Linked DNA regions of Homo sapiens: region 1 is linked to region 2. The links come from fine-mapping of genetic effects on gene expression. A gene starts in region 2. The other region holds a variant in brackets. All regions are shown on one strand. Distances are from middle to middle.

What was found. PIP is the estimated chance that this variant, and not a neighbour inherited with it, causes the effect.
Region 1: its variant is fine-mapped to the expression of SLN in lung (TOPMed, PIP 0.95).

The regions. Positions count from the first base shown.
Region 1 is chr11:107,822,482-107,827,873 of GRCh38, forward strand. All of the region lies in intron 1 of SLC35F2 (solute carrier family 35 member F2), which reads right to left. Among named protein-coding and RNA genes, the nearest start is that of SLC35F2, 34 kb to the right of the region's middle. RefSeq lists an enhancer at 2,986-3,485. The variant T/C (reference allele first, on the strand shown) is at 2,697.
Region 2 is chr11:107,709,299-107,714,690 of GRCh38, forward strand. SLN (sarcolipin) reads right to left here and starts at 2,758. Exons shown (of 2, transcript NM_003063.3): 1 at 2,665-2,758.

The sequences.
Region 1 (5,392 bases), 110 kb after region 2:
ACTCACCTATTTTCTAGTCCCAGACCCTCTTTCTTCTCCCCAGAACACATCGGGGAGCTCCACTGTGTGCCCCCACAAAATACCACAACCCTCCATCACAGTACCCACCACACACTGTTCTTTCCCCAAAACTCTAAGCTCCAGGAGGAAAGGGACATTATATTCTCCATGATTAATAGTGCCTGGCAAATAGGGTATTTGCTATTGTTGAACAACCTCAGAAGTTTTCTGTGTGAGGAGTCAGACAGACCTCACAACACAAAACCACAATAAAATGAGAAAGGGTTAAAATAAGAGTTGTGCATGCAGCCAAGGAGAAGGAAAGCTCAAGATGTCCTGGAGAAGGTTCACAGAGGAGTCAAAACAATCACACACCTGAAAGGTATTTTAGGAAGATTGAGGAATGCAGGAAAGGCCATAATACAAGTTTGTGCCTAATTTAAACACTAGTTTTACATTATATATATATATGAGACACAATGATGGGATGCATTCATATACACATATATATAATATATATATGAGACACAATGATGAGATGCATTCATTTCTTTAGCTCTTCTTTATTTACTATTTCAAATTAGATAGGCAGTCCTCTACTGATTATATATTTAAAAATCACTGGGCTTTAAAAATAACACTGACAACAAGACCCCAGCCCAAACCAGTTGGATCAGATTCTCAGAGGGTAGATTCCAAGTATCAGCCTATTTTAAGTCTCCCAGATGAGTCTAAGACATGATCAGGACGGCAAACCACTAAATTATTCTTTTCTTTTTATTTGAAAAAAAGGAGTTCCAAGTGACCGATAAGATGCATTATTTGAATGCAAATTATGCATTCCCTTCACTTTATGTCTCAATAAATCTGTGCTGCTAGGTTGCATGTTGTCAGCTAAAGGCAGGATTTCATATTAGTGCTAAGACTCCTATGGAACATAGTTACTTGGGGGAGATTTTAAAATCCATTACATCTGCCACCTGTAAATACCTGGTAAAGAATAATAACTTCCAGTACGTCTATAAAAATCCTATTATGAACCCAAAAAGAAATATACATTTAGGCCAAGTTCTCGCACTCTGCACATAAGCTACCCAGTTTCTATTTCTAAAGCATTTTAAATTATATCGGAAGCATGTTTAGAAATAAATTATAAGTAGTTTTTGGTCAGGCACTGTGACTCACACCTGTAATTCCAGCACTTTGGGAAGCAGAGGTGGGCAGATCACTTGAGGCCAGGAGTTTGACACCAGCCTGGCCAACATGGCAAAACCCCATATCTACTAAAAGTACAAAAATTAGTAAGGTGTGGTGGCGTGCACCTATAGTCCCAGCTACTCAGGAGGCTGAGGCAAGAGAATCACTTGAACCCAGGAAGCGGAGTTTGCAGTGAGCCAAGATCATGCCACTTCATTCTAGCCTGGGCGACATAACAAGACAGTCTCAAAAAAAAAAAAAAAAAGAAAAAAGAAAAGAAATAAATTATAAGTAGCTTTTCTTTACATAGTGAGTAGCAGCCAAGATGAACTGTTTTCTTTCCATCTCCATAGTCCTACGATTCAAAAGTTTAGCCATCAATGTATCATCTAATTCTAGTAAGCATGAGTAGCTTGCAATTGTGAAGAACCTACATTCTGTTAGTCATATTCAAAACTCAAAGTAGCTAAAAAAGTCAAATTTTAAAAAATAGATAGTGTATTGGTGTATATGATCACCTCACAAAGAAGGCAAGTAAAAGAAAGGAAATCAGTGTTTTCTTTTTGCTCACTGGATGATGTCTTACTCGGAATAGGTGCTCAGTAAATGTTTATTAACAAAAAATGCACTATTATGAAGATGGCATCATGTTAAAATGCAAGGCAGACAATACTGTAGACAAGAGGCCCTCAAAAGTGAACTCAATGAATGTTACAGTGGAAAAAATACAAACTCCAGAGTTAGATAAAACTGGGTTCTGGATTTAAATTTGAAACATGAAAGAGAGGAGAAACAGGTACAGGCAAGTGAAAACAGTGGTTCACACCATGTGCTGTTCTGGAAAAGGCTAGTAGAGAGTGCAATTTGGATGTGACCTTCAAGAAAAGATTATTCCTTCTGAACATAGCAGAAAGAATCCTAGTCTTTGAATCCAAAGATCTAACTCTACTCTTTATTAGTGTTAGGTAGTTCTCTTATGTCTTTTTTAAGTGAGTGTAATACCACCTTTATGCGCCTAAGGGTTAATTGATGTAACCTATAAAAGTACCTAGCACATCCACCCACCTGAGGCACTGAGTGCATTTTATTTCCTTCCTTCCTCTGGCTCGCCCTGTCTTTTGGTAACCTCTTGACCATACCTGTCTATTCTATATATGCACCATCCAATAGAGTAGCCTCTACCCATATGCAGCCATTGAGTGTTTGAAACATGGCTCTATATATGCACCATCCAATAGAGTAGCCTCTACCTATATGCAGCCATTGAGTGTTTGAAACATGGCTAATGTGAATGAGGAATTGAATGTTTAATGTAATTTCGTTTCAACTTAAATAAAATAGCCATATATGGAGAATGGCTACCAAATTAGACAGTGAAGCCAGGGATCAGCATTGTGCAATACTGTAGATGTTACCACAACGATGGAAATGTTTGAAAAGTAGTTCTTGAGCACTTCAAATGTGGCTAGTATAAATGAGGAACTGAATTTTTTGTTTTA[T/C]TCTATTTTAATTCATTTTCATTTAAATAACCACATGTGGCTGGGGGTTATAGTATTGAATAACACAGCCCTAGCCTGGTGCTTCTCAAACTTTCATGTGATATGAATCATCTAAGGCTCTTGTTAAAGTGCAGCTTCTGATTCAGTAGGTTTGGAGAGAGGCCTGAGATTCCGCATTTCTTTCTTTTTTTTTTTTTTTTTCTTTTTTTTTTGAGATGGAGTCTCGATCTGTTGCCCAGGCTGGAGTCCAGTGGCACGATCGCGGCTCACCGCAACCTCCACCTCCTGGGTTCAAGTGATTCTCCTGCCTCAGCCTCTCCAGTAGCTGGGATTACAGGCGCCTGCCACCACACACAGCTTATTTTTGTAGTTTTAGTAGAGACGGGTTTCACCATGTTGGTCAGGCTGGTCTCAAACTCCTGACCTCGTGATCCGCCCACCTCGGCCCCCCAAAGTTGTTGGGATTACAGTCGTGAGCCACCGCGCCCGACCTGAGATTCCGCATTCCTAAGAAGCTCTCAGGAGATACTTATGCTGCTGGTCCACGGACCAGACTTTGAGTGAGCAAGGGTCTACAGCAATGCTTCTGATTCTGAGGTCTCTCAACTTTTAGGAATCCGTGGAAGAAGTGAATGCAATCCATGGGCTGTTCAGGATCTGTTTTTGACACTTCAAAAACTTAACAGTACTTCTGACTGTTGCTGGTAAAAGCGTAAAATAATAAATCTCTATTTCAGCGGGAGAGTTTGGGGGTGCTGATTTGACAATTTCTAGCAATTTTGTCTCAAGGAATCTACCCCAAGGCAACTCTGGCAAAAATACAAAAAGGTGTATTTACAAAGCTATTCATTACAGCACTATTTATACTAGCAAAAGACTAAAGGAAAAAAACAAAATGTCTAACAATGGGAGACTAGCTGAATAAACACACAGGAGTACTACTGTACAGCTATAAAAAGCAAGGCACATATTTATATGTACTGTTATAAAGTGACTGCCAGGTATACCTTTTTTAAAAAGGAAGCAAATGTGGAGAAAAATGGGTATGGAATGCAAATATTTATCTATAATTTGTTAATTTTTTAAAAGGAAAGATAAAACTTTTTTTTTTTTTTTGAGATGCAGTTTTGCTCTTGTTGTCCATGCTGGAGTGCAATAGCTCGATCTGGGCTCACCACAACCTCCGCTTCCCAAGTAGCTGGGATTACAGGCATGTGCCACCACGTCCAACCAATTTTGTATTTTTAGTAGAGATAGGGTTTCTCCATGTTGGTCAGGCTGGTCTCGAACTCCTGACCTCAGGTGATCCATTCTCCTTGGCCTCCCAAAGTGCTGGGATTACAGACATCAGCCACTGCATCCAGCCAAAACAAAACTTTTTAAAAGTTGTGTATAGGGAGGACAGCAGAGGGAGCAAAGTAAAAGGTGTATGTCTGACTATACCTTGTTTTATAGATTTGCCTTTGAGGCCATGTAAGTATGTTACATAACTTATAATTATGTAAAACAAAAATTAAATTTAAAAAAGCCACATCTAAAATAAAATTTAAAATAAACTTGATGTTTTAAAAATTGGTAGCAAAACCTGACAGGAATTATTTCAAGGGACTTTAAAATATACTAATTTGATAGTACACTCCTAATAAAATATACCATAGGATCAAAAAGAACTGTACAATAGCTTAAACTGTTTTGATATGGTGTTGATATTATTCTGGGAGTATTTACAAATACTGTGGAATACAGAAAATAAGAAAATTATATTGATGGAAGCCCCTTTAACCTCTTCTGGTTTTCAGTGCTATGTCCCCCTACAATATGAATATTGTATATACATATTGATATATGAATATCGTATATACATACATATACAATATGAATATTGATGTATTCATTGGGATATATAGAAAAAAGATGAAGATGTAAGATTGAAGAGGTTGAGTTAAAAACCTTATAGTTTTGAACTTTACTGAAAGGTACAATTGACTCATGAGTACTTCGTAGTATGTCATGAGTATTTCATAACATATACATATATATATCCTATCTCTTTCCCCTAAAAAGCTCTGAAACAATGACTAATCCATTAATTATGAACACCCCTAGTGCCTAGATAATGGCAACTAAATACTACCTCCCACTAAAAAGAACTAGGAGCTGGGCGTGGTGGCTCACACCTGTAATACCAGCACTTTGCGAGGCCAAGGTGGGTGGATCACTTGAGGTCAGGTGTTCAAGACTAGCCTGGCCAAAAGGGTGAAACCCCATCTCTACTAAAAATACAAAAATGGCTGGATGTGGTGGCTCACGCCTGTAATCCCAGCACTTCAGGAGGCCGGGGCGGGAGGATCACCTGAGCTCAGGAGTTCGAGACCAGCCTGGCCACCATGGCGAAACCCCATCTCTACTAAAAATACAAAAATCAGCCGGGCATGGTGGCATGCACCTGTAATCCCAGCTACTCGGAAGGCTGAGGCAAGAGAATCACTAGAACCCAGGAGGCAGTGGTTGCAGTGAGCCGAGATCGCAACACTGCACTCCAGCCTGGGCGACAGAGCAAGACTCTGTCTCAAAAAAAAAAAAAAATTAGCTGGGCGTGGTGGAGCACCCATAATCCCAACTATCCAGGAAGCTGAGGGAGGAGAATCACTTGAACCCAGGAAGCACAGGTTGCAGTGAGCCGAGATTGCATCATT
Region 2 (5,392 bases):
ACATTTAGGACCAAAGTCTACTGTAGAGTGAAAGTTTAGGGAGAAAGGGTATTTTGTGTGTTTGCTAAAGGTGAGAGTTCAAGAGGCTGAAAGGGTTGTTAGCAAGCTTTTGGTCTGAGTGGTATTTTTAAACTATCTAGCATGACTGAATTATTAATTGTAATTACTGTATTGATTATATTATCAATGGACCAAATTGTTAATTGCATAAATGCCAACTGAATGATCATTTTTCATATTGTGTAATTGGCATAACATACAGGTTCAGCCAGGCATGGCAGTCGGTACCTGTAGTCCTAGCTAATTGGGAAGCTGAGGTGGGAGGATCCCTTGAGCCTAGGAGTTTAAGACCAGCTTAGGCAACATAATGAGACCCTGTCTCAAAAAAAAATACAAGTTCAAATCAGATGGTGCCAACCAGTAGATATATAGCCAAATGATGACAGATTTATATTTCATCTCCCTTTTAATTATTATCCATCTTTTAGACCTCAGCATGAAGGAAATAGTAAATTGCCAATGAAAACCATTACAAATGGCTGGGCGTGGTGGCTCATGCCTCTAATCCCAGCCCTTTGGGAGGCTGGAGTGGGAGGATCACTTGAGCCTAGGAGTTCAAGACCAGCCTGGATAACACAGCAAGACCCTGTCTCTCCAAGAAAATAAAAAGGGGAAAAAATAGAAAATCTTTACAAAGATTTGCATGGAGGAGAAAGTAAACAGAATAAAATGAATGGATCAAGGAAAAAGGATTTATGAGAATGTACAAAAGAGCAGAGGAGAACAGAACGGTAATGAGTCTTGCCAAGGTGCCTGGAGGCAAAGGAATGAGAAACGAAGACAGACTCTTTCTTATAAACTTATCAATGAAATAAAACCATAGTCCAAATGTCCATCTATTTGGGTAAGTTCTCAAGAAATGCAGAGATAAGCAGAAAATATGAAGCCTGGCTTATAATGGTCAAAACAATTCAAGGAGAGCAAAACAACGGTCCCACCAAATCTGCCTATTAAATTAAGCTGTTAAGTCATGGGAATCATGGATAGTGATCCAACAGGATATACTCAGAAAATGAGAAAAATACTATTGAAAGCTGTTCCACAGCTCTGTTTGTGTTACCTTCGCAACAACTCAGGCAAGTGTTACTGCAGTTTTTATCTTTCTCAAGATTACAGCTGAGAAACTGACTTTTAGAGAGAGGAGATTAAGATGTTTGTGTAATGACAGATAACAAGTTAGAGGCAAAGCTAGAATTAGCAGACTGGAACTAGTTACTAGAATTCCTAGGAGTTATGACACAAGTGAATTGTCACTGCAATTAACTGGCCTGGCTAAACAAAGTTAGCATAAATTTTCAACCACTTTGGAAAACAATTTAGCTTTCTTAGAATTAATGTTGAAAATGTTCATTCTCTAATATCTGGCATTTCACTTCTACCTTAAGACAGTCAAGGACGTGCGTGCCAGGTTACATAAATAAAGAGTTCACAGCAATATTATCACAATAACTCCAAACTGGAAACAACTCAAATGTTTATCAACAGCAGAATGGATGATAAATTGTGGTATAGTTATACATTTGAATTTCATAAAGCAAAGAAAATATATGAACTATAGCTACACAGAAAATGGGTAGATCTCACAAATATAATTGTTGGGTGAAAGAAGAATTTACAAAAGAAACAGAGAATATGACTCCATTTATATGATGTCAAAAATAGGGAGGTTAATCATATTGTTTAGGCATGCAGACATAGATGGTCAAATTATAAAGAATAACAGGGACAAGAGGATCCCAACATCTTGGGGCAGAATGGGGGTTGATCAAGAATGGGCTTCTGGGTGCTGGCAATGATCTGTTTCTTGACCTGGATGATAATTATAGAAGTGTTGCCTTTCAGTTATTGTTTAAACTGTGTATGTTTATGCACTCTTAACTTTTTTTTTTTCAGTCATTTCTGAATTAGCAGGCTACCCATCACACTTCTTTCTTTCTTGGGATTTACCTCTTACTACTTCTTGCACTTTAATGGTGACCTTGAATATTTGTTGTTTTATGTGATTTTAGATGAATAAAACATGAAGAGTTAAGGTGAGAATTTCTAGTGAATTCAATTCAATCAACACATATGCTAACTGTAAGGTGTGGTGTGAACATTCCTTTCACACACATTTATACACTTTAGGAAGAATGAACCAGTTAGGCAGAAATTCAGATCAGCCAAGTTCCATTTTTCTGCTTTTAACCAATAAAGACACTTTGGGTTTCATTTTAAACATTCCCTGAAGTCAAGGTCATGCCATATGATCCAGTGATTGCAAATGGATGAACTAAAACCCAAAAAGCTCTGAATAAATTGTGCAGGAAGTTTGACATTGGCTTTCTTTGAATGGAGACTTAGAGAAGATAGAAAAAAGACCATCTTCCATAATACAAGAAAGAAAAAAAATTTTTTTTTACTAGGAAGGGAGAAAATGCATACCCTTAGGAGAAAAAAAAAGGAAAACAGAAAGCAATAGTACTCACTTTATATCTTAAGGCATGCTGTATCCAAGGGGCATTGCCTATTTCATTAAGAAATGCAAACATTCCTCTGCCTTTCTCATTTGCAGCTTGTACACACACACACACCGTATGCTAAGCATAAAAATCCTGCAGTTACCTGAAGAGGATCAAAGACACACCCTGGCTATGGCAGGTTTCTCCTCGCTGTCTCCAACTTGAGCTCCAACTCCTTCTCCCCTCCCAGGCTGTCTGGACTCCTGGACTCTGGGCAGCGCCTAAAGTAGTCCGTGGAAGCTGGCAATCACTGTGATGTCACTGATGAAACATCTCAAAGGAACACCCTCCGAAGGTTCGAGGCTATTTGTGTTCGGGGGACATGGAAATATGTTGACTAAGACTTTGTTCCTTTGGCTGCCAATTTGCCACCACCAGGATTTAAAAACCTTCTGTTTCCAGTTGACTTTTAGTGCAATTGATGTGGGTTTTAAATGTGTCTTTTACATCTTCATGAATAACTTTAACATGTCTTTAAAACATCATAAACCAAGAATGATAGACTAATTTTAACCAATCGATGCTGCATTTGACTGCTCTCCCTAGTCAGCCTGTGAGGTGTAAAAATGTGACTTCATTTTACCACCCATATCTTTAGTTATTTGAAATGTGAAGAGTTTGCTGCCTTACACCCACACATATGCACACCCATACACACACACACACACTCCAGAATTCAATAGGCATCTTTAGCTCTTTCAAAACTGACTTTAGTCCAAGCAGTGAAAGCTATCCCCTCCGTCACCTGCTCCACGTAACTTTCCAGCTAAGCTGTGCATTGCAAGTTTACACGTGGATCTACAGTTTCATCTGAAACAGCCGAGGAAGTCATGGTTTGTATATCTCTGGCAATAAATTAATAGAGCAGTAAACTCACACAGTTCAACTCAGTTATTTGGATAGATTGGGAGTGGAAGGAGAACTGGGTAAAATTAGTGAAAAATGTGAATTATAGAATATATCTGAAAGAAAGAAAAGTATTATATAACTTTCTAATATGAACACTAACTAAAATTAGACTAAGATGAGTTTGTAACCAATGTATCACATGTTTGGAGCCCCTGAAGTGTTAAATTAGACTTGAAAGCAGATCAATTAAGTACTTTAAACATGACCCTAGCAATTGTGTTTGCTCAGCAGATCCTTTCTTTATAGATAATAGAGGAAATCTCCCCCTCTGAATTCCCAATTAGGGTCAATCAAAATAATGCATTCCCAAAAGGCATAAACAAACAAAATTCTCTATGCAGTTATGCTCATAGTCAAACCTTTCCCTCCATTCCTCATACCCCAGAGACATTACCAAAACAAGACTTTCCATTTCATTTCCTCATTTTAACATAAGCTTAGCAACGGGTAATCTTAATACAACATTCTGTCACCACTTGTCTTGTGAAAAGAGCGCTTGCTGAAGTGACAGAGAGTGTATAATAATTATAGTGCAACCGAACATTGGCAGTTATCTGTTGCCATCTGGCAAACTCCTTGAATGTAATCAGAGTTCTGTCTTCTGCCTCCAAGCTCTCACTAGATTGTTTCCCAGGCTGGGAATGTTTTTCTAGTTACCAAGCCACACCTGTCCCTTTTTGTAACCACTCAAAATTATTTTTTGTCAAATTAAAAAAGTTATATATTTATTGTAGGACATGTGAAAATATATTAAAGTATTTAAAACTTTTAAATTACTTTTAATCTCACCACCCAAAGGGGAAAAAAACAAAACTTTACTTTACTTTTTTTTTCTTTTGAGATGGAGTTTTGCTCTTGTCACCCAGGCTGGAGTGCAGTGGCGTGATCTCAGCTCACTGCAACCTCCGCCTCCCGGGTTCGAGCGATTCTCCTGCCTCAGCCTCCTGGGTAGCTGGGATTACAGGCATGCACCACTATGCCTGGCTAATTTTTGTATTTTTAGTAGAGATGGGGCTTCACCATGTTGGCCAGGCTGGCCTTGAGCTTCTGACCTCAGGTGATCCAACCGCCTCAGCCTCCCAAAGTGCTAGGATTATAGGTGTGAGCCACCGGGTGCCCGGCCTACATTACTTTTTATTCATCCGTTTGAGGCTGCATAGGCACAATCTCAAATTCCCAGGATATTTTTGGTAAAAGAATCTGAAACTTGAAAACCTTTTTTCTTAATTCATTTGGAATCAAATTATTTGTAGTATATCATGTGTTGATATTAGGTTTATGGGATAAGCATTTATTTTGTACATCTCAGATTATGAATTAGCTCTACAATATTTAAAATGTTAAATACAATAGCGAAATGTTAACGTATCACCAAAAGAGCTCTCCAATGTTGTCATTTTGTTGAATTGGTCAATTTCAAAGTAACTTAGAAGAAAAATTCTACTTCTTATTTGACCGAATTGATGGGTTAGTCTGGTTTGCCTCATTTAAGCATGTCTAAGCTGCACCAAGGACTACTGTGCCCAGTGCATTGACAAATTCCCAGACTTCAGACGCTTCTGAAAATTAGTGGTTTCTTCTGTAATGTCAAGAGATTGGGATTACACTTGGAATGTAGTTATCACTAGTTTAGCTTTACCCTCTCCAGAAACACATGCAAGCCGCCCCAAATCACCTGACAACTACTCAAAGGCATAAGGAGGGTTTAACCCTCAGGATCTGCAGGTTTGCTTAAAAAAAAAAAAAAAATCTTGTTTCCTGCAAGGAGCCAAAATAAAATAAAAATAAACTCAACATTATTTTACAAAATCAACATTATTTTTTCTCATTTAAGAAGTTGAGAATTCCAACATTTCAGACCTTAGTACCAAAGCAAATTCATCCTTTGCAATTAACGTTACTTAACTCTGCTAATACTTTCC